Linked DNA regions of Homo sapiens. The protein of the gene in region 1 purifies or fractionates together with the protein of each later gene. This does not show direct contact. Each region holds a gene or a part of one and is shown in the gene's direction. Other genes may lie near its edges.

Region 1 (3,500 bases):
TGGTATGTCCATACAATAAGATACTACTCATCGATAAAAAGGGACAGACTACTAATGGCAACAACATGGATGAATCTCAGAAGCCTTTTGCTAAGTGAAGGAAACCTCCGCCAGACCCAGAAGACTACATACTGTATGATTCAAGTTATATGGTGTTCTGGGAAAGGCAAAACTATAGGGACAAAAAAACCTGGTCCGTGGTTGGTGAGTTGCAGGGAAATTTTTTTGGAGGTGACCGATGGAACTATTCTGTATCTTGATTATTGTAGTGACTATATGCTTTGTCAAACTCACAGAACTGCTGAGCACAGTGGCTCATGCCTGTAGTCCCAACACTTTGGGAGTCCGAGGTGTGTGGATCACTTGAGCTCAGAATTTTTAGACCAGCCTGGGCAACATAGTGAGACCCCATCTCTACAAAATTAGCTAGGCATGGTGGCATGCACCTGTAGTCACAGCTACTTGGGAGGCTGAGGAGGGAAAATTGCTTGGGCCCAGGAGGTCAAGGCTGCAGTGAGCTGTGATTATGCCACTGCACTGCAGTCTGGGTGACAGAGTGAGACCCAGTCTCAAAATATAAATAATTAAAATAAATCAGGAGGCTGAGGCACGAGAATCTCTTGAACCCAGGAGGTCGATGCTACAGTAAGCCATGATTGTGCCACTGCACTCCAGCCTGGGTGACAGAGTGAGACCTGGTGTCAAAAAAATAAATGATTGGTTGGGCGCAGTGGCTCACACCTGTAATCCCAGCACTTTGGGAGGCTGAGGCAGGCAGATCACAAGGTCAGGAGTTCAAGACCAACCTGACCAACATGGTGAAACCCCATCACTACTAAAAATACAAAAATTAGCCGGGTGTGCTGGCATACACCTGTAATCCCAGCTACTCAGGAGGCTGAGGCAAGATTATCGCTTGAACCCAGGAGGTAGAGGTTGCAGTGAGCTGAGTTCATGCCACTGCACTCAAGCCTGGGCCATAGAGTGAGACTCCGTCTAAAAATAAATAAATAAATAAATAAATAAATAATTAAATAAAAAATAATTTGGGCACAGTGGCTCATGCCTGCAATCCCAGCACTTTGGGAGGCCGAGGCGGGCAGATCATGAAGTCAGGAGTTTGAGACCAGCCTGGCCAACATGGTGAAACCCGTCTCTACTAAAAAGACAAAAATTAGTGGGCATGGTGGTGTGCACCTGTAATCCCAGCTACTGGGGAAGCTGAGGCAAGAGAATCGCTTGAACCCAGGAGGTGGAGGTTGCAGTGAGCTGAGATTGCACCACTGCACTCCAGCCTGGGCAACAGTCTTTTTGAGACAGAGCAAGACTCTGTCTCAAAAAAAAAAAAAAAAAATATTGGCCAAGTGTTGTGCCTCACACCTGTAATCCCAACACTTTGGGAGGCCACTTTGGGTGGATCACCTGAAGTTAGGAGTTCGAGACCAGCCTGGCTAACATTGCGAAACCCTATCTTTACAAAAAATACAAAAATTAGCTGGGCGTGGTGGTATACGTCTGTAATCCCAGCTACTTAAGAGACTGAGGCTAGAGAATCACTTGAACCTGGGAGGTGGAGGTTGCAGTGAGCTGAGATTGTGTCACTGCACTCCAGCCTGGGCAACAGAGTGAGACTTTGTCTCAAAAAAATAAATAAATAGGACAGGTGTGGTGGCTCACGCCTGTAATCTCAGCCCTTTGGGAGGCCGAGGCAGGTGGATCACTAGGTCAGGAGTTCGAGACCAGCCTGGCCAACATGGTGAAACCCTGTCACTACTAAAAATACAAAAATTACCTGGGCGTGGTGGCAGACGCCTGTAATCCCAGCTACTTGGGAGGCTGAGGCAGGAGAATGGCGTGAAACCGGGAGGCGGAGCTTGCAGTGAGCCGAGATCACACCATTGCACTCCAGCCTGGGCGACAGAGTGAGACTCCATCTCTAAATAAATACACAAATAAACAAACAAATAAAATAAAAAATTAATTAACCTCACAGAACTAAACACTGAAGAGAGTGAATTTTACTGTATGTGAATTCGTTGTATTCTAATTTAAAAGAAAATCACTCAGGCTTCAGGTTAATTCCTTGGCAATCATGAACACTCTGTGGTGTATAACTTACAGGACAGGGATATCTGAAGTTTCCTGGAGCAGGAGAAGATGGGGTGGGCACAGAACCTCACCAGCTGAACCAGCTGAACTATGTCTTTATAGGGATTTTGTCAGGGAGAAAAAGTATCGGACAGAAGCTGAGATGTTTGGATGGAGCTTTGTCTTTGAGGACTTTGTCTCTGATGAGCTGAGAAACAAAGCCACCCAGCCAATGAAGGTGAGAGAACCTGGTCTTGCAGCTGAGGGGATAGGAGTGGGACCTGGACAGGGAATCCTGTGGGACATGGGTTACCTGGGACACAGTGGAGAATCAGACCTGAGAGGTGGAGGCAGAGGGGAAGCAAGAGAAACTCACCATGGAGCGTCAGATCAGTACACACTCCCAGGAAGTTAACCCTGAACCCAAGTTAGCTCTTGCCTAAATGTCCAAGTCAGGATAGGATCCAAGGAACTTGAATCAAGAGATCACCTTGGTGGGCCGAGCGTGGTGTCTCATGCCTATAATCTCAGCACTTTGAGAGGCTGAGGTGAGTGGATCACCTGAGGTCAGGAGTTCAAGACCAACATGGCGAAACCCCGTCTATACTAAAAATACAAAAATTAGACAGGCATGGTGGCACGCTCCTGTAATCTGAGCTACTCAGGAGGCTGAGGCATGAGAATCGCTTGAACCTGGAAGGCAGAGGTTGCAGTGAGCCGAGATGGCGCCACTGCACTCCAGCCTGGGTGACAGAGTGAGACTGTGTCTCAAAAGAAAAAAAAAAAGAGAGATCACCTTGGCAAGCCAACCTCTAATAAGGGTGGTAAGATGGGCTCTATAAAGATTCCAGTCTCAGCTGGGCGCAGCAGCTCACGCCTGTAACCCCAGCACTTTGGGAGGCCGAGGTGGGACAATTGCTTGAGCCCAAGAATTCAAGACCAGCCTGGGCAACATAGATCCCATATCTACAAAAAAAAGAAAAAAAAGAAAATTAGCTGGGCATGGTCATGCACACCTGTAGTCCCAGCTACTCAGGAGGTTGAGGTGGGAGGATTACCTGAGTCCAGGAGGTTGAGACTGCAGTGAGCTCTGATGGTGCCACTGCACTCTAGCCTGAGTGACAGAGCAAGATCTTGTCTCAAAAAAAAAAAAAAAAAAAAAAAAAAAAAATCAGCCACAACCTCACTTAGACCACCTGAGTCTCAGCCTGACGTCTCTGTTCTGCGTCCTGTGGCTCAGTCGGGGAGGTGCCTTTGCTGGGCCGGAGCATCTTGCAGTCGGTCTCCTTCTTTTTCGCAGTCTGTACTCTGGTGGCTTCCAGTGGAAAAGGCATTTTGGAGGCAGGTAAGGGCTGATTCCGCTACCTCATTTTCTACCCCTGCTTGACTCTTATTCTCCAGGCCCAGCCTCC
Region 2 (7,632 bases), on another chromosome or scaffold:
CAATTAGAATCCTCACACTGACTCATCAGTCACCCTTTCTCCCTGGAGAGCAGAATACACATTGACTAATGCTCTTTCTGGAATATTCCACACAGAACCCTGCCCTTCTCTTACCACATGAATGCTGTGGCAGGCAAGCTATAGCGGATGGAAGATGGCAGTGTTTTCAAAGTGTGCATCCTGGACTACCTGCCTTAGAATTTCTGGGAGGGCTTGTTGGAAATGCAAAGTCTTGGCCCACTCAGATTTACACAATTGGAAGCTGGAGGTGGAACTTGACCTGACAACCGACATTTCTTAAAAAAAAAAAAAAAAAGCACACCAGGTGATTCTGATTCATCAGAAGTTTGAGAGCCTCTGCTGTAGAGTATTGTTTAAAGCAAACACAGAACAAAACCACTGCATACAGATATCCCTTGCTATCCAAACTTACTTGGCCCCTGAGTTTGCACAACAAGAGTTTGGTTGGTGAGAGGTGTACATTCCTCAAATGTATTTGATTCCTGTTTCACTGAGAGTTTGGAAAGCAATGCATCCATCTGTTTGTTTTCTAATTTTGTGTTTCTGGGCTCCTGATGGTGAAGTGGCTTGAACTGGCTCTGAGGCTGCACCTGGATGCTTTATTAGTGATGGTCACTTAAAATGACCCTTCAAAATGGACTGTGTGCCAGGAAGGGCGCTGATTCATGTGTGGTATCGCCTTTAGTCCTCATGGGGACTTAGTGAGGTACCTGCTCTCTGTTGTCTAGGTGAGGAAACTCAAGGCATGGGAGGTGTGCTGACTTGTCTGACAGCACAAAATTAGTGCTGGGTGGAGCCAATTCATCCCCAGGGACTGTAACTCCAAAGCCCCATGGTTGGATCTGTTGGTTCCCAGCAGTGTGGGTTCGAATTCATGTTCTACCTCATACCAGCTGCCTAACCTCTGTCAAGTCATGTTACCTCCCTGAGCCTCCCTGAGTTTTCTTCTCTATAAAACTGAAACAAGGTAGGTAAAGTTTTTCCATGATAACACCTACTTTAGAGATTTTCAGCAAGAACCAAAGAGAGCATGTAGAAGTATCTAGGACCGTGTCGGCTGCACGGAGCTATCTCCTTCAAGTTCTCTTAGTCCCCTCCTTACACACAGTGGACAGCATGACTCAGAGGGCCTCCCTGATGCCTGCATGTGCTGGTCTCAGCCCTGTGTTCCCCTTGAACTCTGGCCTGCTCACTGTCCTCTTGTAGCTTTGGATGTCCGCATCCAAGCCCATCTCACTGCACCCTTGAGACTCAGCTCTGGGATCTCTTCAGCTCCAGCCCTCTAACTCAGCTCTACATGAGCCAGTGACCTCAGGGGCCACACTCAGGAGTTTGTTGCCTGCTCCTTCCGAGTCACCATACTGACCACAACCTCTTCTCCTAGCACTTCCCTTGCTCTACCTCACGGGGATTGCTAGAGTATGGATTTCTATCTCCCCCTTGTGTCCAGGTCCTGTTGGCTTTGTTGCTTCCCTAAATAGCTAAGGCCTGGTGGCAGGTGACTTACTGTACTTCCCAGCCGCCCAGCTCACCATACTTGTCCATTTATCCTTGCCCCTCCTGCAGTACCTTTATCGTCAGACACTCCAGCCACACCCTCTGCTCTGTAGTCCAAGTCCTGAAAGCTGCTGGAGAAAATCCATGCCCCCACGAAGCAGGGAGGCCCTCAGATGCCCCGCCTCCAGCCCCAGCAGCCCAGGCAAGCTCTCTGCTCAGCTCACCTCACTTGTCCTCTGCAGCTGCTCCGTTTGCATGACCTCTTCTCTACTCCCTTTCACTGCTCCCCTCCAGGCCTTTGCCACCCCTGTGCCCCATTTCTCAGTGGATAGCACCTTTCCTCTTGTAGAAATGGAAGCTGGTGGACAGCCAGAGGTAGGGGATCGGACAGGGTGGATGTGGGTACGCATCCTGGCTGTGCCCCTTATCAGCTGTGTGACTCTGGGCAAGTTAACCTTTCTGAGTCTTGGAGTCCTTAATGTGCCGTTCACAGGATCAGATGCCACCTAGTGTGTACTTGCTGAATGGGCTCTATTAATAATCTCTGTCACTGAGACCTGGAATTTTGTGTATGCATGTTCTGGGCTCGAGGCCTCTTCCCTCAACTCCCCACCACTGTCCCTGCTTCCCACGTCTGCAAGCAGAATGAGCAAGATCTTCCTTCTCACCTACCTACCCTGCAGCCTCTCCATCCACTCTCATCCCTCCCAGCTGCAAAAGTGCCAGCCCCCTTGCCCCTGCCTGTTTCTGCTTTCCACTCCTTCACCTGACCTCCAAGGCAGAGCGAGTGCACACTGGGCTGTTCTGGCTGTGTCTGTGGCCTCATTGTCCATTTGTTCTTCACCATCCTCTACACAGGCTTCCACCTCCCCAATCCACTAAACTCTCACCTCAGCACTGACCTTGGTGGCCAGTAAAATCTATCTGTGTAGGTCCTGACCTTCCTTGAGCTCTGTGTCACTTCCTCACTGTTGGCCAGCTCCACCCCTTCTGGGACTGTTGGCCTCCCAATCCTTTCTGTGTCTGCCACTTAGGTGCCACTTCCCAGGCCCCCCACTATATCCTTTCCACCTCTTCTTCCCCTGCTGGGCTCAGTTGAGCCTTGGCAGATGACTCCAGAACTACCCCTTCAGCCCAGGTCTCTCCTGATTTTCAGATATGTGTGTTGACCTGCCTGTGAGAGCCATTCCTAGGCAGATGACCCTGGAGACCTCAGCTCCATAGGCTTCCGCGTGGTCAGGCCACCACCCCTGCCCTGCCTTTTCTCCTTCCTCCTCCTCCTCTTGCGCCCCCTGCCCCCAAATGCCAGCGAATTATGCCACCAGCTGAATGTGAAACCTGGAGTCACCCTTGGGTTCCTCAACACCTCCTCCTCCTCTGCTCCCTGCCCCCATGTCTGCTTGATGCCCCTGAATTCCTCTCACATCCACACAGTCCTCTGGATCCTTCAGCACATTGTTCTGGACCACCTCAGTGGGCCTTGCTTTGTTTTGTTCATTCAGCAAGTGTAGTGAGCACCTCTTATGTACCCAGCAGTGGCCTAGTACCATTTTGTCTAAAGCCTCTGGAATCTGTGTCTGTGTCCTGTTGCAACAGGACTCTTAATAACTTGAAGCCCAGATCATGTCAATTTCTCGCCTTGAAAGACCTCAGTGACTCCATTGGCCTAGAACTTGGAGTCTCCACTCCCTGGATAGACCCACCAGGTCCATATTATCTGGCCCGGACCTAACTTTCTAGTCACCCCTCTGCCCTCCCATTTGATTCTCCAGTCACATGGGCCTTTCATTGGCCCCAAATGCAACCTGCTCTGTCACAACTCCACACTGTTCCGTGCCCTGCAGCCCCTGCTTGGAGCATCTGAGCCCCATTTGTCTGACTGCAGGTGCTTCTTGTCAAATTCTAACTCCTCTGTGAAGCCTTCCCTGAATCTCCCAGGCAGATTTGAGGGCTTATTCCCCTGTGTCACCCCTGGGCCTCTGTGGGGGATCGGTCAGAGTGGTGGGAAAAACTATAGGGAAAGGATGCAAACCTTCTGAAAGGTCAGAAGGTTCTGCAGAGCCCCAGGGGAGAATAGCTGTTCTATAACCCTGAGGCAGAGGGCAAGGAGTAGGTACAAGGGAGTGTGGGAGAATTTATCTTAAACAGGCTTGTTTACTTATGTTGACCAGGAACTGACCTTTGATCGTCTGTGCTTGTGAGGTTCCCTGAAAGGGGAACAATAAATGTTAATTACCTGCAGGTTGGCTCTAGGTTTTTGGCATTATGCCTGCACTGAATAAAAGCCAGCAGCTCCAGCTTCTCGGGGCTGCTCTCTGGCCACTAGAGCCAGGCAGTAACCTAGCTGCTCTTATGCTGCATACCTGTGTCTGAGTACTCATTTCATCCATAGGCCAGGGTCTGCAGGACAGACCCAGCAGGCCTCACTGATAATTAAGCATTTTCTTGTCTCCATGATTGTGTCCTCACTGGATGGGGTGGCTCATCAAGGGTGAGGACCTTGTCTGCTTATTGCCTTACGTCCAGGGGCTAGCATAGGAAGGAGGGAATACCTTTGTATAGGACATAGCCATCCTGACAGGTGTCTTTCATCCCCAGGAGGACCAAAGTTCCACAGGTTTCAGACTGAAGACTTCATCTACCAGAAAGTATAAGTAGGCCAGGGCTCAGCATAATCCTGCTGGAAGGCTAGATGTATATCTTTTCTCTTGACTGCAAGTGAGAACGGGTGAGTCTCATGATTGTCCTCACCCTGGCAGTGATGAGAAGAAGCTGGTGGGTCCAGCTGATAAGTCAGGGGCTGGTCTGCGAAGACACGGCTCTCTTCTCACCCCTCTTTGGGGTGGAAGATTAATTTTTGTCCTTAGCATTTGTGAACCAGGTTGGGAATGAGAGTCAGCCCAGGAGGGGCCGGTGGCTCATTTACTTCAGGGCATGATCTGGCTGTTCCCAAAGTGCCTCTTGGGTTCAGGGACTGTGAAGGACGTGCTGCTCTCTGGTATCTCCTTTGCTCTTCTCCTGCCTGCTGACAGTTTGTTAGAAATGAGCTCCACGTAACGGCCATAGTTCATGAAGATATGCAGTTGTAATCTGCTGTTGGGTTAGCAAGTGATCAGAGGGAAAGGCTCAGTCAGGGTTGCTGTTATGTGTTAAATTATGAATTTTTTTTTCCCTGAAAAGGGCTGTTGACATCCTAACCCCCCAGTACTGCTGAATGTAACCATATTTGGAAATAGGTTTATTGCAGATGTAATTAGTTAAGATCAGGTCATATTGGAGTAAGGTGGGCTCCTAATCCAATATGATCGGTGTCCTTTAAGAAGAGGGGAGAGAGACACGGGAAGAACACATGAAGATGGAGACACAGTGATACAGCTGCAAGCTGAGGAATGCCAGGGACTGACAGCCACCACCACCAGCTAGGGAGAGGCAAGATTCTTCTACTTAGAGCCTTCAGGGAGAGAATGGCCCTCCCAGCACCTTGATCTTGGACTTCTAGCCTCCAGAGCTAGGAGACAATACATTTCAGCTTAAAACAACAGAGCAGTAGGTGACACATTCATCCACTGTGATCTGTGCCCTAAAGTGAAATCTGATTTGCTTAGAAATGTATCTTATTTGTAGACCTACAGATTTTGCTGTGACTCTGTGGGTGAAGTGATGCTGATGGTAGGGAAAGGAGTGTTACATTTTGGCTGAGAAAATCATTAAGGGCATCAACTAAGGGGTAGGGATTGGGAGAGATGCACAGGCAAGCATTATCTCTGTATGCCTTGGCAATTTAAATTGCAGTCACTCTCATTTTTATTTTTTTTCAATTTGCAGCGGAAAATCCGCCAGAGCTACTTTGCCTCTGTGTCATATTTGGATACACAGGTCGGCCGCCTCTTGAGTGCTTTGGACGATCTTCAGCTGGCCAACAGCACCATCATTGCATTTACCTCGGATCATGGTAAGCATTTTGAAATTCCCTGGTGAGTCAAAACATCTGAACTTTCCTGTGAAACATGCTTTGCAAAATTGCCATTGACATAAACATGGGTGTGTTCTCTTTTGTGAACCAGTGGTTCACAAACAAAGTGGGATCCTGGGGCATTTTTATGATCAGCTTGTTAGTCCTGAGACCTCTGTCTTAGATGCTTGACGGATAGGTGTGGGTGGGTGGGGGAGGGTCTTGCAGCAACTTTTTTTTTTTTCTTGATGAATGCAGCAGGAACCCTCCATTTGTGTGGCAGAGCTCTTGTAACCCCCATTTTTAACCTGGAGGGTTGGAGGACTTTTAGTTTGGGTGGAGAGGATCCAGAACAATCCTGGCAGAGCCCAGCAAGCTCTTCACGCCTGGCTCCAGCCCTCCCACCCCTATCCCCGCTGTCTTCTCTGCCGAGAGCCTGGGCTTTTCAAGTCTTTATCTCCCCCTAAGGCTGTTTCCTACTTTTCCAAAAATGAAACTATCTTTTTAAAAGCATTTTTTAAATTCTTCAACATTCCAAGAGCAGGGAATAAAACAGCAGCTCCCCCCGTTTCCCACTCACATAGTCTTGTTCCTCTCATCCTCACCCACTCCCCCATCTCTGAATTGTTTCGAAGCAAATCCCAGATGGTTCCATTTTCCGATCACTGTCTCTGAAAAATATTGCCTCTTTTGAAGTATAACCATAATACTGTTATACTTAGAGAAAGGAAAATAATTTTCATATCATCAAATATGAAATAGGATAATAGTAAATCATAACATGTGCTTATCATGAAAAGAAAAAAGGATACAGAGCATGTAATTCAGGGCCAGAACATCCTGCCCTTTTCTCCCACCTGCTCAGGGCTAACAGATGACAATGGATTAGGGATCCATCTGCCAGCCATCAGTTGTGCACATATGCACACAGGGATATATGTTATACATGTGTATGTTTGTAACATGTATGTCACAAGATGTGATTGCTTGTTCTGTGTGTACTGTTAACGTTCCCTGGTTTTGTACACTTAATGTCATAGGCAATCTCTGTGTCATTTCTCAGAAGCCTACCTTTTCCCTTAGAAATGTCTGTAATATTTTATTATATATGGAGGTGCCATAATTTTTCACATATTCCTGATTATCTGCCATCTGCTTCTGAGCCCTCGGTGCCCAGTTTCCTCTTCTCCACGAACACACTCTGTTGTGAGGCAGTTGCCGTAGATTACAAATAGCCCATCTCAGAGTCCCCTCCTGGGACATCCTCCATCAGAACCGCCTGGGAGCCAGTAAAACATGCTGGTTTCTGCAACTGGTCTCAGGAGCTCGCAGTTCTGGGCATGGGAAAGTGCACTTTAACAGGTGTCTCAGGTGGTCTGGCCACCTCTCCCTGAGCTCATCATTCCCTGGGCCTCCCTATGTTGCCACGTCCTCATCTTGGGCCTCTGGGGCAGGAGCCAGAAACCTCCTGAGCTGCCTGTCAAGGTCATCGGGCTTGTTCCTCCTGATCTGGAGATGGATCCTTGGGGCCCACACAGGCACGCGTTCTCCTTAGCCAGACTTCCCCGTATTTGCTCCTGGCTGCAGCAGCACAGGCTGAGGCCCGGCACCAGATGTTCAATACGATCTTGCAGTCAGGCGGTCCACAGCTATTTCTGTAGCATTTGCCATGTGTCAGACCCTGTGCCAGGCCTGGGGGCCCCCTCTGCCTGGTGCAGGGCAGCTCACAAAAGCTGGCAGAGGCCGAAGGCTGCGTGCCAGTATTCAGAATGCCACAGAGCGCCTGGCTGCTGTACCTTCAGAGCCTCCACAGGCACCCCAGTCAGAGTTCCGGGAGTGGATTCCTGAGGTCGCACTGCCAGGTTCCCTCACGTTGCCATCCTGCAGGCTTCTCGATCCTTGACCTTTTAGATTCCCGCCACACTGAATCTAAAAGGGACAATGTGACCTCTAAGCTGGTGGCCTAGGAGCCTGCCGATAACCTACCCATTCATCAGCCCTCGTGGGTCAAGGCTGCCTCGTCCTCCCCGAGAGAGTGGAGAGGTCGAGCAGTGGGGATGCCCCTCAGGCCCCGGGGCTTACTGACTGGGGCGGGTGTCAGGGGGAACTCCCTCTCTTTCTGAGCTCCACTGAGCTATCTGAAAGTCCCCACCATACTCCCC
Region 3 (8,395 bases), on another chromosome or scaffold:
CACTTTGGGAGGCCAAGGCGGGTGGATCACTGCAGGTCAGGAGTTCGAGACCAGCCTGACCAGTATAGCAAAATCCTGTCTCTACTAAAAATACAAAAACTAGTTGGGCGTGGTAGCACATGCCTGTAATCCCAGCTACTAAGGAGGCTGAGGTAGGAGAATTGCTTGAACCCAGGAGGTAGAGGTTTCATTGAGCTGAGATTGAGCCACTGCACTCCAGCCTGAGTGACAGAGTGAGACTCCATCTCAAAAAAAAAAAAAAAAAAAGCTGTGATTATGAAATCACTGTGAAAATGTGAGGGAAGTGGCTGCAACTTCTTGAGCACTTACATGCCAGACACTGGGCTCTAGTACTTTGCAAACAATCCTCACCCTCCAATAAGGAGCTATTAAGACCCTCACTTAACAGATGTGAAAACTGAGGCTTAAAGAATTTAACTAACTTGTTCCAGGTCACTTGTCTAGTAAGTGATAGTGCAGGGATTTGGGCTCCACTGCACTCTTCTTGAGAGTGGGAAGCACCCCAGCAATGAAGGAGCCCTCTGGGCACGCGGCAGGTGCCATGCCCAGGCTCTTCATGTGCATCGTTTCGTCAGACCTCTCGGCAGCTCCCCGTAGTGTTATTATCATTCTCATTTCACGTGAGGAAACTGAGAGCTAGGAAGATGAAATAACTTGTCCAGGGTTCTGCAGCTTACAGGTAGCCAGCCAAAATATGAACCCACAGTTTTGGACTCCAGAGCCCACATTCTTCACTAGCTGAGCTTCCATTAAGCCACACGGGCAGCTCCGTTGACATAGGTGCCATCGCCTTTTGGTGCCTGCTTTCCTTATTACAGGTGTAAGTTTCCCAGAAGACATAACCAGCCTCTGAGAGTGATCCCAGCCAGTGTAACTCATGAGTTCCCTTTCCAGAGCCTTGTTCCCAGCCTCATCCACCAGACTTAGCGTCATTCTCCTCATCATCCTATAATTGTTGGAATGAGTTTGGTGCACAGTTTTGGAGAGCTTCTGCCTCTCCAAATCAGACACCTTTAATCAAAGGTGTCTGGGTCAAGAACACTTTCCAGAATGTGTTGTCACACTCCTAGGGACTCCAGACTCTCTTTCCTTAACTCGGAATGAAGTGACATTGCCCATCACTGCCACTTCCTCTCCTCCTTCTCCCTTTCTTCTTCTACATGAGCCTATTTGGAATGTGTTTATTAAAATCTATTGTGGGATCACATATTTCATGATCACAAATCTTCTTAAAATAAGAGGAAACAGAGCCTGATACTAGTTCACCTTTTACGTAATATCCTGATGTCGTATGTACCATGAGTAACTAAGTAATATTGTTAAAAACCTTCTGTATGCCCCATTCCCTCAAAGGAATAGAAATTCTTCTAAGAGGTTAGGGTTGTCAGTTATCACCAAGTGCCTGTGCTGTTGGTTTGGGACCTGTAGAACTTCCAGAAATCAAGGAAAACCAAAGCAAATAAAACGAAACAAAGTAAAAATCCCTTAGAGTATATGATTCAGAATGGTTTTAGTTCTTCAAGGGCAAACCTTACAATCTGCTAATCACTTAAATATGTATATTGGAATTTCTGATTGGCTTTAATATTTTGGTTCCCAGTCTTAACTTATATATGTTAGGCCTCTCATATTACTTGGTAAAAATCTCCCGATTCTGCTAATTGCATCAATAAAGGTTTATTGTTTCCCATAAAATGCTTTAATGAGTTTTTATTAGCCTTAGTTTCATTTATTTAAAAAATTTTATTGTATTCATAATTCTCAATCAAAATACCTTTAATGATCACTAGTTGATATATAATGTTGAGGATGGAAAGACTGGGATTAAAAGATACTTAATGATGTTTTTCCCTGAGCAGAGTGGCCAGATGAATGTTTTTGAACCCCTGGAGGAGGGTTGCAAAGAATCCGACCTGAATATGCAGACATTTCTAGTTGGACCCACAACTGCTCACATTCCATAGATTTCTGGTATTAATAATAAAAAAATATTAAAAAATAGCTACCAACTCAAGTGCCATGTGTCAGGTACTATGCTAAGCACACACACAGAAAGTGAGGTGATAATGCCATTGCTATTGTTAGCTTAAAACAATCATACAATCTATAAATTTAGAAAAGGAGACTTTATTTCTTCTAAAGGGTTACAGCCTTCAAGGTGGCCATCCTACAGGCTGGGAAGCGAGCTCCCAGCCAAGAGCAGATGCAGGCACTTGGAAGGGGGAGCAGCTGGGGTAGGAGCTTTATGCTGAGAGGGTTGGCTAAATATACCTATTTAACAGATCACAGAAGGGGCTATGAAAATTTGTGAAGATGGTCCTGACATACACATATTGAACAAACATGCATGTAACATATGACCTATGTTTATTTGGGGGTAGAAACTTAACATTTAAATGTATTATAATTAGATCCTATACATCAAAAGGTCTTTCAGGATATGAAGGCCCACAAGTGCACAGCCTCTGTAAACCATCCAGAACCACTTCATGGTCTTTTAATCAGGAGAAAGTTACTAAAATCAGTCTCTTGTGCAATCAAAGCTGTAGTTACGGCTGGTGGAACAGAGGGTCTCAGCTAGTCAGTGTCTGATGGTAGATGAGCTGCAATTGCTTCAACACTGCTTATCTCAAGGCCAGTGATTGTTTAGCTGCTAGAGAAGAAGAAAACCCCTGTGGCAGTTAGAGTTGATTCTTTAAGTGTAGGGGTGCATGACTTCACCCTCGCCTGGCATGGCCTTAGGTCCTGTTTATAATTTGGTATATTATTGCCACAAAGAGGCTGTTCTGCCAGTCTTATGATCTCTATTTAAACATTAATGCTGGTCATTTGTTGTGTCTAAACCACAAAAGGGAGAGGGTATAATGAGGTGTGTCTGACCTCCTGTCCCATCATGACCGGAAACTCGATTTAAAGGTTTTTCTGGAGTCCTCTTGGCCAAGAAGGGCTCTATTCAGTCAGTGGGTGGCTTAGAACTTTATTTTTAGTTTATACTTATCTATAGACTAGGATGCTGAGGCTTCAAAAAATTAAATGACTTGCCAAGGTGATACAGATGTAACAGACAGATCCCAGATTCACACACAAATCTTTCAGAAGTCAAAGCCCTTCCTCTAATGGCTATACCTGTGGTTCTTAAAGCCTGGTCTGAGGACCCCAGAGATTCCTGGGGGGGACCTTTCTAGGGGCTTTTCCAACCACACTTGAGACCACTTGAGGCCACATCCTCTTATACTCCAATCAAAACAACATAGCAACAGACTGAATTCAGAGGCACATATGAAGATTCAGTTGTCTTTTTTTTAAGCCGGATGTTAAAGAGCCTTGCAAAATTGTAAAACAGTGCAACTCTTCTCATGAAATGTTTGTTTCATTTTGAAAAGTATAATTATTTGCCTTAAATATATGTTATGTTAACATATAATAAATTTATTTCAGGTTGAGCATCTCTACTCTGAAAATTCGAAATCTGAAATGCACCCAAATCTGAAACTTTTTTATTTTTTGAGACAGAGTCTCGCTCTGTTGACTGATCTCCACTCACTGCAACCACTGCTTCCTGGGGTCAAGTTATTCTCCTGCCTCAGCCTCCCAAGTAGCTAGGACTACAGGCATGCACCACCATGCCCAGCTAGTTTTTCTATTTTTAGTAGAGAGGGGGTTTCACCATGTTGGCCAGGCTGGTCTCGAACTCCTGAGCTCAAGTGATCCACCCGCTTCCACCTCCTAAAAAGCTGGGATTATAGGCGTGGGCCACCACGCCAGCAAAATTCGAAACTTTTTGAGAACCAACATGCTAGTCAAAGGAAATGCTCACTGGAGTATTGCAGATTAAGGATGCTTAGCCATCAAGTAAAATGCAAAATTCAAAAAGATCTGAAATCCGAAACACTTCTGGTCCTAAGCATTTCAGATAAGGGGCACTCAACCTATATTAAAAAAAAATTAATGCACACATATTTTTAAATTCTCATTTATAATGTATAATTTGTTAAATGTTGACATACGTAACTCACAGACAAAAGCTCTCAGCAATCCCTATTAATTTTGGGGACACAGAGGGGACATGAGGGGTGCCGAGACCAAAATGTTTGAGAATTGCTGCATTACACAATTGTTTCTGTGGGAGTTTGTGCTGCCAGCTAGGCTTCCTTCTGTGTTCATAGTCTAGGGATTTGATTCTTTGCTACTTTTTCTTCTTAGATTAGTTTTTTGTTTTTTTTTTTTTTTTTTTGGCTGGGTCTAACATTCAGTTCTTCTCTTTCTTCCTTAGATAGAGAGAGCCATTTCCTTGCCACAGCAATTTTTGAAGTCTATTTTCCCAGTGCCATTTAAGGGAGCTTATCCATGAGAGCACTTAGAGGGTGGGTCTTTGGTGAGTGGATTTGCCTGCTGTCCTTCTCCTTGTGCCAGCATCATGAGTCCCTGGGAGACTTCTGGAGGGTTAGGTTTCACTGCAGTGATTGATGCCAGGTACCCAGGCGTATTAATTAATACTAATCATCACCATCACAGCAAGCATTCAGGGAACTTACCATGTGCCCAGCACCGTGCTAAGCTTTATGTCACACTTCAGTTTCCCCTCAAATCCTCAAAACAGCCCTGTAGGGTAGATATTATTCCCATTTGCTAGGTGAGCAAACTGAGGCTTCAAGAGCTGTGGTTTCACACAGCTAAGAAGTGGCCAGAGGCAGCTTTTGAATCCCTGGTCAGGCGTCTGTGTTGAGATAACCTGAAATTCCTGTTGCCAAGCATGACTTTCTCATCAGACCTTACACTTCTGCGCTGCTCTAAGATGATGATGACTTCCTCCGAGCATTAGTATTTCGTTTTGATTTCTCCCCTTTTGACATTTTCAACACATGGGTTTGATCTGTGTTACCTAATATGCAACACAGTTCACAAAACACCATGTGTTTTTAGATCCTTGTTGGATATCCAGAAAGAAGTCTTTAGCATCAAAGGATCAAGAAGTCCTTCCACTTCGAGAGGCAATGGCTTCGATAGTGAAGGTGCAGTGAGGACGATTCCGGGGGGACTGACTGTCGAATAACTGGGCATGGGATCTGGCAGAGGAGAGTGGGAACAGATCCTGCTGCCTGGAACAACACATCGGGGCACCTCTTGGCATGTTAATGACAGTGTCATTAGCAGCTGTAGTATCGTTTATGTCTTCCACAGTTCTGAGAAAAAGTACTGCTCTGGCACTGGGTGGCCTTCGTTTTCCGAGGCTCATGGTACGTCTGGCTCTGATGAAAGCCACACAGGGATCCTGAGACGTCTGGATACCTCGTTAGGATCAGCTCGCACAGAGGTTGTCTGCAAGCAGGTGAGGTTTCTCATTTTGTTTTACTTTCCCTGATGCTGCCCCCAATGCCACAAAGAGCTCTCTTGTTCTTGGCAAATCTGGTGTCCTTTTATAGGGGTACTTTCTTTTGTCTTCAGAACACATGGGGTTTCTTTTTTGTTTTGCTTTGTTTTGTTTTGTTTTGTTTTGTTTTGAGACAGTCTCGCTCTGTTTTGCAGGCTGGAGTGCAGTGGCATGATCTCAGCTCACTGCAGCCTCCACCTCCTGAGTTCAAGTGCCTCAGCCTCCCGAGTAGTTGGGATTACAGGTGCCTGCCACCACACCCAGTGAATTTTTGTATTTTTAGTAGAGATGAGGTTTCGCCATGTTGGCCAGGCTGGTCTCAAACTCCTGACCGCAAGTGATCCACCTGCCTCGGCCTCCCAAAGTGCTGGGATTACAGGCGTGGGCCACCACACCCAGCCCAGAACACATGGGGTTTCTACACATGCCAATAACGATCACTCTCTCCCTTCAATCTGGGCACTGCAAAAAAGAGAAAAGTCTTCTCCAGCCTCTCTCTAATGTGGCCTTTCCTGGTTCTAACCTTCCACAGAGATGAGAACAGAGGTAGGATCTTCACCTTCTTTTGAGCAGGGATAAGGAGCAGGAAGTCCTTATCCTGTCAGAGTGACTGGCATCTCATCTTTGACTTACCCAGTGTGACTGGCACCTCCATCTCTCCACCCTCCTTTTGCACCCTGCAGCGTGTCACTGGCCTGCAGAGCAATGCTGCGGGTGACGTCAGCACCTCTGCCTTCTGTGAGCCCCGTAGGAGAGAGTGGCTTAAATCCAGATCACAAATTCATTTTGATATCCTTAGCTGCTCACATTTTCTGACTCATGGGTTTTGTAAAACATTAGAGGCAAGCTGATTAAGATAGCGTGGTTTTGCCTTAAGTAATAAATAATAATAATACACTGGGTACTACAATATTATTCAGTACTTACCCAGGAATTATGTTAATGCTTTACATGTAATATATCAATTAATTGTCCCCACAGCTCTCTTATGTAGGTATGATAATTATCCCCATTTTTAGATGAGTAACTGTAAAGGCCCAAATTTAATAACTTGCTCACATCCTATTGATAAAGTAAAACTATTTACCATGACTGTGTTCTGCTTTCTTTCATTTCTTAATTGAATTCGGATGCAATAGACTTTTTCTCCTAACACAGATGTCAGACTCCGGAGTGGAGTGATTTTGGGGGGGTTCGTCTGTCTGGTTTTACATAAAGAGCTTTGTTTGCATTTGGAGATGACAGAGGCTTCTGTCCTTTGCAGTGTGAAGCTCATCTAGGTCACGTGTTTCCTGATGGACCTGGGCCCAATGGTCAGAGGTTTTGCATCAACAGTGTGGCTTTGAAGTTCAAACCAAGGAAACACTGACCATCTTCAAGAGTCCCGTTCCCTTGCCACCCCTTCACGTGCACCCTCAATTTCCACAATTCACTTGAATGACTTGTTTTATTTGCAATAAAACTGGGCTGAATTTGCTGCTGTCTCCAGCGAGTCATTGCTTCTCTTAATTTATTTACCTGGAATCAACTTAATCCTGTGTGTTAGGCTGTTCTTGTGTTGCTATAAAGAAGTACCTGATCAGGATCTGGGAGAATTTGAAAAAAAAAGAAAAACTAGAAAAATAAACAAAATTAAAAAGAAAAAAAAATACCTGAGACTGAGTAACTTATAAAGAAAAGAGGTTTAATTGACTCACAGTTCTGCAGGGTGTACAGAAAGCATGGTGCCAGCATTTGCTCGGATTCTGGGGAGACCTGAGGGAGCTTTTACTCATGGCAGAAGGTGAAGGGGGAGCCGGCGTCTCACATGGCAAAGCAGGAGCAAGAGAGAGTGGTAGGGAGGTGCCACATACTTTTAAACAGCCAGATCTCTCAAGAACTCACTCACTGTCACCAGGACAGCACCAAGCCATGAGGGATCCACCCTCATGACCCAGTTACCTCCCGGCAGGGCCCACCTCCGGCACTAGGAATTATACTTCAACATAAGATTTGGAGAGGGAAAACATCCAAACCATATCACCCAACTCCCACTTGGAGTAGAACTTCACAAAACGACAGAGGGACAGCTGTTTCCATCAAACACTTCCACAGCTTCACCTGAGACGAGGGCATGACTCTGGGAACATCAGGAGGCTGATGGACTATTAAGCCAAACAATTCCTACAAAAATTCCCTGCACCTTCCACTGCGTTTCAGTCCTTGACAGACATAAGTAAGGGATCAAGTGAGAAGAGGAAGGAAAATACAGGATCCAAGGAATCAACAATGCTAGCACTGAAGAGCAGGATTACGGAGGAGCTGTGCTCTGGGAGCATATATGGTGATCAATCAGATGCATGACTTTTTTTTCAAAATTTTAAATGTCTTGAGCATGCTACTTCCAACCATTCTACCCACAAATAAACTGCAATAGGACTTGGTTAGATTTCAATGATTATGAATAAATGTTCACCTTCATACCTTCTGGTTACAAAGCTAAACTTTAAAATGTCCAAATAAAATATTCACTAAAATTTATGTTTGCTTTTTGGCTAAGTCAATGAACATGCTCTTTTATAAAAAAAACTCTAGCCAGGCGTGGTGGCTCACACCTGCAATCCCAGCACTTTGGGAGGCCAAGGCAGGCGGATCACCTGAGGTCAGGAGTTTGAGACCAGCCTGACAAACATGGAGAAACTCCATCTCTACTAAAAATACCAAGTTAGCCGGGCATGGTGGCACATGCCTGTAATCCCAGCTACTTGGGAGGCTGAGGCAGGAGAATTGCTTGAACCCAGGAGGTGGAGGTTGCAGTGAGCCAAGATCACACCATTGCACTCCAGCCTGGGCAACAAGAGCAAAACTCCATCTCAAAAAAAAAAAAAAAAACAAAAACAAAAACCAAAAAACAAAAAACCTCTAAATTAAAAATGACAAATAAGAATTGGCTCACATGGTAGCAGGCATTTGGTTATACCAAGACTAATAGCAACTCAAGTATTTCACAAATCAAGAGTCTTG
Region 4 (8,395 bases), on another chromosome or scaffold:
ATCTGAGATGCTGCAGGAGTCATATTGGGAGTTACTACCGAGACCCGCTTTGCATCTCCTCAAGGGAAGTTAACTGTCTAGTTCAGGCTCAAGAGACTAGTTGGTCTCTTAAGTCTCTTTTGGAAAGAAGGTCTGAGATTCCTCGGCTGTCCCTTTAGCCCTCCTGCTTTTTTCCCCTCCTTAGTCCTTCCAGACCCGAGCTTGGTCGGCCCTTTCTGTTAGCACCCAGCATGGCATGGATGCTCAGGAAATGCTGGTTGACTTTTGGCTAAGTCCTGCCACCTGGGTACTCTGGCTCATCTTTGCTGTTGCTGAGCCCCTAAATCTCCAGTGCCTTCTCCCACACAGGAGGCCTCTTTCTCCAGGTGCCTGGCTGCTCTTCAGGGGCCTGCACATCCCTGTAGACAGGGGTGGGCAAGAGAGTTTTTCTTGGGGATGTTGCCCATAACTTCTGTGATATCTTCCCAAAAGTCCATCGCCCCAAAGAGGAACCAAATTTATACTTACCCTGTCAAGGCTGCTGGGATCACAGTTCATCAATGGGATAGCATGATTTCCATTAGCCTTTCCTTGGCTGTCCCCCACAGTCCCCAAGCCATCCCACCACTGCCAACAAAATCAAAGTCCCAAATCAGAGAAAAACATATCCCATCCTATTGTCATGGATAAGTTGCCAAGAATAAGATAGTAAGGGGACAGGTGGTGAACAAGGGGTCCGTGTGCTGATGTCCTTGTACACTGCGGCTGTCCTCTATGAGCAGACTGAAGAAACAGATACCAGGTAGCTGGGGCCTGTAGGAGTCAGGGTTCTCTAGAGAGACAGAACCAACAGGGTGTGTGCATGTCTGCAGATTATGCATATATCAGAAGTGCGGTTGCCAAAGGAAATATTTGGTTGCTCTTGGGGGCCATGGACTTTTATGGAGGATAAACAGAAGTTATGGGCAATGTCCCTCCAGAGATATATATATGGAGAGAGACAAAGAGCAATTTTCAGAATTTGGCTTACATGATTGTGGGGGCTGGCAGGCCAGAAATCTGCATGCCACCAGGCTGAAAATTCCCGAGGGAGTTGATGTCAAGGAGGTCTGGAAGCAGAATTCTTTTCTGTTCGGGAACCTGTCTTTTCTGTGAAGGCCCTCAACAGATTGGATGAGGCCCACTACATTTTGGAGGGTCAGCTGCTTTGCTCAAAGTCTACTGATTTAAATGTTAATCACATATCAAAAATACCTTCAGGGCAACATCTAGGCTGCTGTTTGACTAAACAACTGGGCACAGTATCCTAGCCAAGTTGACACCTAAAGTGACCCATAACGGGGATGTCAGCTCGAACCACATTTCATGGCGGACCAGCCCCTCAGAGCCTGGCTGAAGACTGAAAACCTGTTTATCCAATGGCTGACTGAGCTGTGAAGCACCCAGCAAAGAGCCCCACTGTGCTCCTCCCCGCCCCATGAGCTGAGGGATCCTGCCATCTGTTCATCCCTCTAAGGACATCTGAGGGAGGCATTGTGATGCTGGATGGTGACTGTGTTTTCCAAACCAAAATCTGACACACATGGGCTGGCAGATAGGAATGTAGTTATGAAAAGAACAGGGCAGGATGTTGGGAATCATGATCATGGTGGAAAATTTGGGATTTGCAGTCCCGACTTGTGGAGAAGACTCCAGAACCCAGAAGTGCTGCCCTTGAGTCCTGGCCATGACTATCTGTGTGGCCTTGAGCCAGGAGGTGCTGTTGCCTCTCTGTGACCCTCTGGAAGGTGCAGACATCAGCCGCTCCAGGACAGTGAGCTGCCAAGTCTCTCCTAATCCCAACAGTCTGATCAGCTCCTATCAAGATGCCCAGGCCGGCTTCCCAGGCTGCCCTGGATCAAGCCACACTAAACTTAATCCAGCAGGAATGCCATTTCTTTTGAGTTTTTTTCTCCCCTAAATGCATAAAGAGTAAAAAAAAAAAAAAAAAAAAAAAAGCATTAACAAAACATTTAAACTTGTATTTTAATGTATTCTACCACAAAAGGGCAGCATCACAGATTCTGGCTTTGCCTTCTGTGTTCTTCAAGAAAGGCATCTTGGCATGGTCTCAAGAAGAGATATTCCAAATTTTAGAACATCCCAATAGAACGGTTGGATCTGGAACCCCAACTTCCTGCACATGAGGAGCCAGCTGAGCACCAGAATGTGATTTTGGGATCCCGATAAAAGTCACCCTGGGCCAGGCGCGGTGGCTCACACCTATAAACCCAACACTTTGGGAGGCTGAGGTGGGCAGATCACTTGAAGTCAGGAGTTTGAGATGAGCCTGGCCAACATGGTGAAACCCCGTCTGTACTAAAAATACAAAAAATAGCCAGGCATGGTGGCATGTGCCTGTAGTCCCAGCTACTGGAGAGGCTGAAGCAGGAGAATCACTTGAACCCAGGAGGTGGAGGTTGCAGTGAGCAGAGATCACGCCACTGCACTCCAGCCTGGGTGACAGACCAAGATTCCATCTCAAAAAAACAAAAGTCACCCTGACCTGTGAGCCACACCTGGCAGTATCATTGTTGGACATGTGGCCATATGAGGCAGAGGGCCAGTCTTTCTGCCATCATGGTTTTGGAAAGGGGTCATGAATAGTCTGCTACTAATCATGGATGGTGAGGATGGCTGACCATGACTGTGACCTCATGTCATCTCATGGGATCAGCTTGACAGCCCCATTAGTTGGATGCTATTGTCCCTGTAGTTTACAGGAAGAAGCTGAGCCCAGGAGGCGGAGTCAGTTGGCCAAGGTTGCAGAGCTTGTGAGTAGGGACTGGGCTGCCAGCCCAGAAGTTTGGCCCTGAAGCCTGCCCTGTAAGCCTCCTCCTGTGTGCATGTTCCCAACATGGGCTTCTTAGGTGACTAATATGCCATCTTAGATGACTCCTGCTTTCGTTCATTTAATATGTTTTCCCAGAGTGCCTCACCTGGGTCAGTATTGAATGGGGCTCTGGGACCCAAGAATGAATAAAAGACATGGTTCCCCATCCGTGACTGATTAAGGGTGGTTTTGTTCTTTTTGAGACAGTGTCTCATTCTGTCGCCCAGGCTGAAGTGCAGTGATGCAATCATAGGTCACTGCAACTTTGAACTCCTGGGCTCAATCGAATCTCCCACCTCAGCCTCCCGAGTAGCTGGAACCACAGGTGCGTGTCACCATGCCTAGCTAATTTAGTAATTTTTTTTTTTTTTTGTAGAGATCGGGTCTTGTTACATTGTTAGGGCTGGGGTTTTGTTCTTTTTGATAGTGATGATTCATATATATAATTCTATGTAATCATATATTTACCCTTTTGCAAGATTATTTTTATTAACATATGTTAACACATGGGCAAAACCCAAATCCTTGGTCCATCACAAGTCCTAAATTTTATTCTGGAAATGTAGCCTTGGCTTGCATAGAAGCATGTGATTTTCCTTTAGCCTACCAGAGCCCTTGGTGGTTTCTCTGTGGGTAAGAGGGGCTGGTTGAGTGTGCACTCCAAGCAAACCAGAAGGTTTGTCCTGATGTCAGAGATGCTGGGACAGAGGGGGCTGAGTCTAGGCGAGAGGGCGAGGGACCCCCAGGCCATGAGTCTCATTCCTGGTGCAGGATTTTTCTTTTCTTGGCTGCTGCTCTGTGCCTTGTTCTGTCTTCTTGCTTCTTGGTGTGGTTACGGGAGCAGGGCAGACATAGGAGGTGGGACTGCTCAAATCCATCTCTTCTTGCAGATCCAGCTTCACACTTTGGTTTAGAGACTCCTGGGGTTTAGAGAGGAATGGGGCCTGGGGCCCACTCATCCAAATTGTCACGTGGAGGAGGAACAGATCCCTTTGTAGGGGTTAAGAGCTCAAACTGTGGGCTCGAATGCCTGGGCTGAAATCTGGATCTGCCACTTAGGAGATGTCACCTCTGAGACCTTCAGTGTCCCCATCTAGAGAGTGGGGGAATAGATAGCACTCTATGAGGAAAGATGTTTTCAGGATGACACAAGAAAGTACACAGGGCGTGGTTAGCACAGCGCCTACAATCTAGTAAACACTCAACGTCTTGAAGATGGTGGCCACAATGATAACAACACAACCTCCAGCCCTGCAGAAGCCCTTCCTGGGCCAAAACCAGTCCTCCTGCCATATCCAATCCTGTGATTGGAGGATGCTGGCTGGTGAGTAGAAAGTCCTTGCTCAAGTTCTGCTGGGGTCCACCTCTTTGGACCTTCTGACTCTGATCTTAGCTCCTGGAGTGCCCCGGAGCAAACCTGTCCACCCTGTCCCCTGCAGGACGGTCTGTTAGCCTCAATTAGCAGAAAGCTTACAGACTCTGGGAAAAGGTGTGCCTGGCTGTCTGCTGTTGCTGATAAGCAGCCTGATAAAGACTCTGTGGTCAAAGGTTGCTGGGCTGGGCTGAGATTCAGTCCCGCCCTTCCAGCCCCTCCTTTCTGCTTTCTATTGCTTCCCTCTCCCCTTGGTAAATCACTGAAAGTTTTCAGTAATGGGGCATGGCGCTCTTTGCGGGCACCCGTCTGGGGCTGTGTCTGTGAAATAGGAGGTAGGGGTGGTGATTGGGGTGATTAGGGTCTCAGTTCAGGAGAACAGGAATGATCTGTTTACCTCTTTGTTAAACACCTATGCTGAGAGCTCTGTGAGGCATCTGTGGCTCTCATGTCCTTGGTACGTCCAGCAGAGTAGATATAATGCCTTGTAATTTGCAGCTGAGGACCCCATGGGGCACCAGTAGCCTCACTTCTGACTTCACCCAGCATTGCCCAGGACCTGAAGTGGGTGTCACCAACTGGGAGTCACCAGGAAGCAATCGAGGAAATCCCACAGACATCTATTTAGAAAACATCATTTCATGATGTGCTTTTGAGACGGGCATGTGAAAGAAGAGGGTGTTGGCCAGATTAAAAGGGACCCTGAGCTTGAGGTTCTGACTGATCATGGTTTCAGGAGGTTTTTCCCCTCACATAACCATTTCTATCTCTTCCTTAGAAATTAGCACACTTTTGGGTACCAGTTTTGAGTTGGAGTGGCATATTTCTTAGAACACTGGACGGCAAGATACTTCTTTAAAATTGGGGAGACTTAGGGCTAAGTTTCGCAGTTTGTTGGAAAGGTCAGTCCTACGAGGACTTTTCTGTTGGGGATGCACAGGTAGAAAGCCCGTTTTCTGCCCCAGAGTCAGCAGGAAGTGTGAGTGGTCCAGGAACAAAAACAGACTTGGTGGAATGCAACTAATCTCCACTTGGGAGACAGAGGGACTTGAGGCTGGAAGGCAGTTTGATTTGTAGCAAGAAAACTTGGTACAAAGAGGTTGTGACCCTGTGTGACCCCGAGGGAGAATTTGGATTTGTGCTAGATGAAAGGGCCATTACAGTGAGGAACTTGGCCTTCAATCTGAAGGCACATGAAAGGCTCTGATGTGTCTGGTCATGTTTGTTCCTGCAAGAATTTAAAACAAAGGAAGCTGGGAGGCAAACAATGCTTCTGCTTTATAATTCCAGTTCCAAACCTCAGAGGGGGAGCTGTAAAGGGTGACCCTGTCTACGGCACCACCCCGCGTTCCAGTGTATTGGAAGTGGATGGTCTCTGTTTTGCATGAGAAAGTGACCTGGTCTCCTTCCTTGTCATGTTTCAGTTGAAACAGAGTTCCTCAAAATTGGAAATGCACACACACATACACACAGACTTTTGCCCACTTTGGAATAGAAATTAATTGCACTCGGAAAATAAATTGCAGAGCATGGCTGAGTACAGACAGCCACATGTGAATGAATTGTTTGTCCGCATAGTTTTGGGGGCTTCGGAATCCTGGCTCACCCACCAAACCTCCCAAGAATAGACAGACAGGATGAGGCATCAGCTCTCTTTCTCATCTGCCCCACCTCAGAGTCTTAGGAGGGCCAAGAGCTTTGGGAGACCTTGGGGACATTCACAGGCTTGGAAGCACTGGCCTCTTCTTCTTTTGTGGCCTCCTCAGGGCAGACTTGGTGGGAGCTCTTAATAAACAGTAACTCAGGAACAGAACAGTCAGGGAGGCCTGGTCCCTGGCCCAGTAATTGAAAAACCAGAAACAGCTTCATTTCATATGCATTGATGACAAAAGTACCGACAGACGCAACCAAAAACATGACTGGCCCGCTGGTGGACAGTTTCGCCCCACAACTTGGGGAGCGCAAATTGCTTTGCCGAGAGTCAGAAGCAACTACATGAGACAGCAGAGGTCCATGTAACTTTTCTGGATTTTTAGGAATCTGATTTCCATGGGTCTCTTGCAGGGCTGAGAATAGACTGGGGTGAGTGAGGCACTCCCTCATGTACAAACTTTCAGGAGGCACCAGAAAGTAGGAAAAAACAAGTAAAATGTAATGCACTATTTTCAGAAAGCCAAAATGAGTGCAAAAAAAAATTCATAATCGACCAAATATTGTTTTTAGTAAAGGCAGGATCCAGCCCTGAGCTTGCTCCACTTACCTCACCTGCCTCACCCTAATCCCAGCCCTGGCATCTTGCTTGAGGATAAAGCCTGTGTCTCTAATAGAGACTCAGTAGTTTGAGGTAAGTGATAAATCTATTGGAGCTATTACTGGAAAGGGGTCCCGATCCAGACCCCAAGAGAGGGTTCTTGCACCTCGAGCAAGAAAGAATTCAAGGCAAGTCCATAGAGTAAAGCGAAAGCAAATGTATTAGAGAAGTAAAGAAACAAAAGAATGGCTGCTCCATAGAGCAGTGGTATGGGCTGCTTGATTGAGTATACTTACAGTTATTTTTCGATCCTATGCTAAACAAGGGGTGGGTTATTCATGAATTCCTGGAACTGAGGTTCCCCCTTCCTAGACCATATAGGGTGACTTCCTGATGTTGCCATGGCATTTGTAAACTGTCATGGCGCTGGTGGGAGTGTCTTTTAGTGGCTAATGCATTATAATTAGCATATAATGAGCAGTGAGGACAACAGAAGGTCACTTGGGTTGCCATCTTGGTTTTGGTGGATTTTGGCCATGTTTTTTTTTTTTTTCCACGTCCTGTTTTATTAGTGGGAGTCTTTGTGAGCAATGTCTTGTGTGGACCTCCCGTCTCATCCAATGAGTAAGAATGCCTCACCTTCTGGCAATGCAGCCTCATTCTACCCAGCCCCTATTCAAGATAGAGTTGCTCTGGTTCGAACACCTCTGACAGAGCTACCAAAAGGGCATTACACAAGGACACAGACAATTAGGTTAGGTGGAAGATGAGCGTATCTTTACGGTCATTGTGATGGTAAGCATAAGTCTTGCTCATGAAGATCTTTTCCATCCTTAACCTGGTATCTCCTGAAAATTAGCAAGAGTGTCTTCTCTTGCTTTCTTTAAATTATTCAAAGCATGTATCATGGTGTCGGCATTTTTTTTAATCCCTTTGCACATAACCCCATCCTTATGAAAATACTTGCTCCCTGTTTTCCCTCTTCTCTTTCCACTGCTGGGAACTATTTTGAGCCCTGTCTGTCTGCAGCTTTGCATAAAGTTATAATGAGGCTGGGCCAGGCAGCCATGGATTTCTCATGCCTACATTCGGCCTGGAATTCAGAAGGGTCACTGGGGGCTGGGGAGAGAAACTCTAGCCTAACTCGTTTGATGCATTTTGGTTGTACCAGATGGAGGGAAACTGCTAATCTGTAGGATTCCATAGACGGCTTAATTCCCCAAGTTTTGGAGGAGTTTGTTTCTCTAATTTTTTTTTTAGCCATAAGTCTTGAAAATCCTGCACCACATAACAAAAACCAGAGGTATTTTTCTGTTGTTCTCCTTTCCTTTGACCCCCTGGTGCTTCCTCCAAGTATCCTTAAGTGTGCAGGTGCCTGTGTTAGGGGAGGAATAGGTCTATGGTCCAATGAGCTGATGAGATGATAAATGCTGCGACTTTGAGATTCTTTTTAATCTCAGCCTTATGGTAATAGGCCATGGAAGAGTGTAAACAGTTTGGGCTAAGGCTTTCTAAATACAGTTGATGAGATCCTGGGAACCACTTATCTTGGGTGGAGTGGAGCACCTCACTTTGAGTTTGGTGTTAGCGCTGGGGCAAAGGTCTAAGGCCTTCTCCAGTGATTGTGCTATTTAAGGATGTTCAAGGGATGGTGAGGGCCTTTGGAAACATCTGAGTGGAGTTTGGAGCCAGAGGGACCCTGGAGAGACCCAGCCAGCCCTTTTGTTTCTCAGGGCCAGAAGGAAGGTGCCCACCTTTCCTGTGAATGAGTCATCCTTGGGACTAGAAGCCTGGGTCTTCCAGCTTAGTAAAGCCTCTGTTTTGCTCTGGTACCTTACCCATCTACGCAGCCTAGTTTGTCCACCAAGGTGCTGATGTGGCCTGCAGGAGTTATTGCCAAGACATAATTCTTCCACTTCAA

What was found.
Region 2: the proteins of SUMF2 (region 1) and IDS purify together in Homo sapiens (co-immunoprecipitation; one study listed by IntAct). This does not show direct contact.
Region 3: the proteins of SUMF2 (region 1) and MSRB2 fractionate together in Homo sapiens (co-fractionation; one large-scale study listed by BioGRID). This does not show direct contact.
Region 4: the proteins of SUMF2 (region 1) and EDN3 purify together in Homo sapiens (co-immunoprecipitation; one large-scale study listed by IntAct). This does not show direct contact.

The regions. Positions count from the first base shown.
Region 1 is NC_000007.14:56,070,786-56,074,285, forward strand, and holds part of SUMF2 (inactive C-alpha-formylglycine-generating enzyme 2 isoform b precursor), read left to right. Parts: intron 1-2,211; coding exon 2,212-2,326; intron 2,327-3,388; coding exon 3,389-3,433; intron 3,434-3,500. UniProt on the Homo sapiens protein: Lacks formylglycine generating activity and is unable to convert newly synthesized inactive sulfatases to their active form. Inhibits the activation of sulfatases by SUMF1.
Region 2 is NC_000023.11:149,488,152-149,495,783, reverse strand, and holds part of IDS (iduronate 2-sulfatase isoform a preproprotein), read left to right. Parts: intron 1-4,116; exon of another isoform or gene 4,117-4,246; intron 4,247-5,343; coding exon 5,344-5,470; intron 5,471-7,632. UniProt on the Homo sapiens protein: Lysosomal enzyme involved in the degradation pathway of dermatan sulfate and heparan sulfate.
Region 3 is NC_000010.11:23,114,102-23,122,496, forward strand, and holds the end of MSRB2 (methionine-R-sulfoxide reductase B2, mitochondrial precursor), read left to right. Parts: intron 1-4,944; coding exon of another isoform or gene 4,945-5,074; exon of another isoform or gene 5,075-5,202; coding exon 5,203-5,350; intron 5,351-6,656; coding exon 6,657-6,761; 3' UTR 6,762-7,912; downstream 7,913-8,395. UniProt on the Homo sapiens protein: Methionine-sulfoxide reductase that specifically reduces methionine (R)-sulfoxide back to methionine.
Region 4 is NC_000020.11:59,304,644-59,313,038, forward strand, and holds part of EDN3 (endothelin-3 isoform 1 preproprotein), read left to right. Parts: intron 1-8,395. UniProt on the Homo sapiens protein: Endothelins are endothelium-derived vasoconstrictor peptides.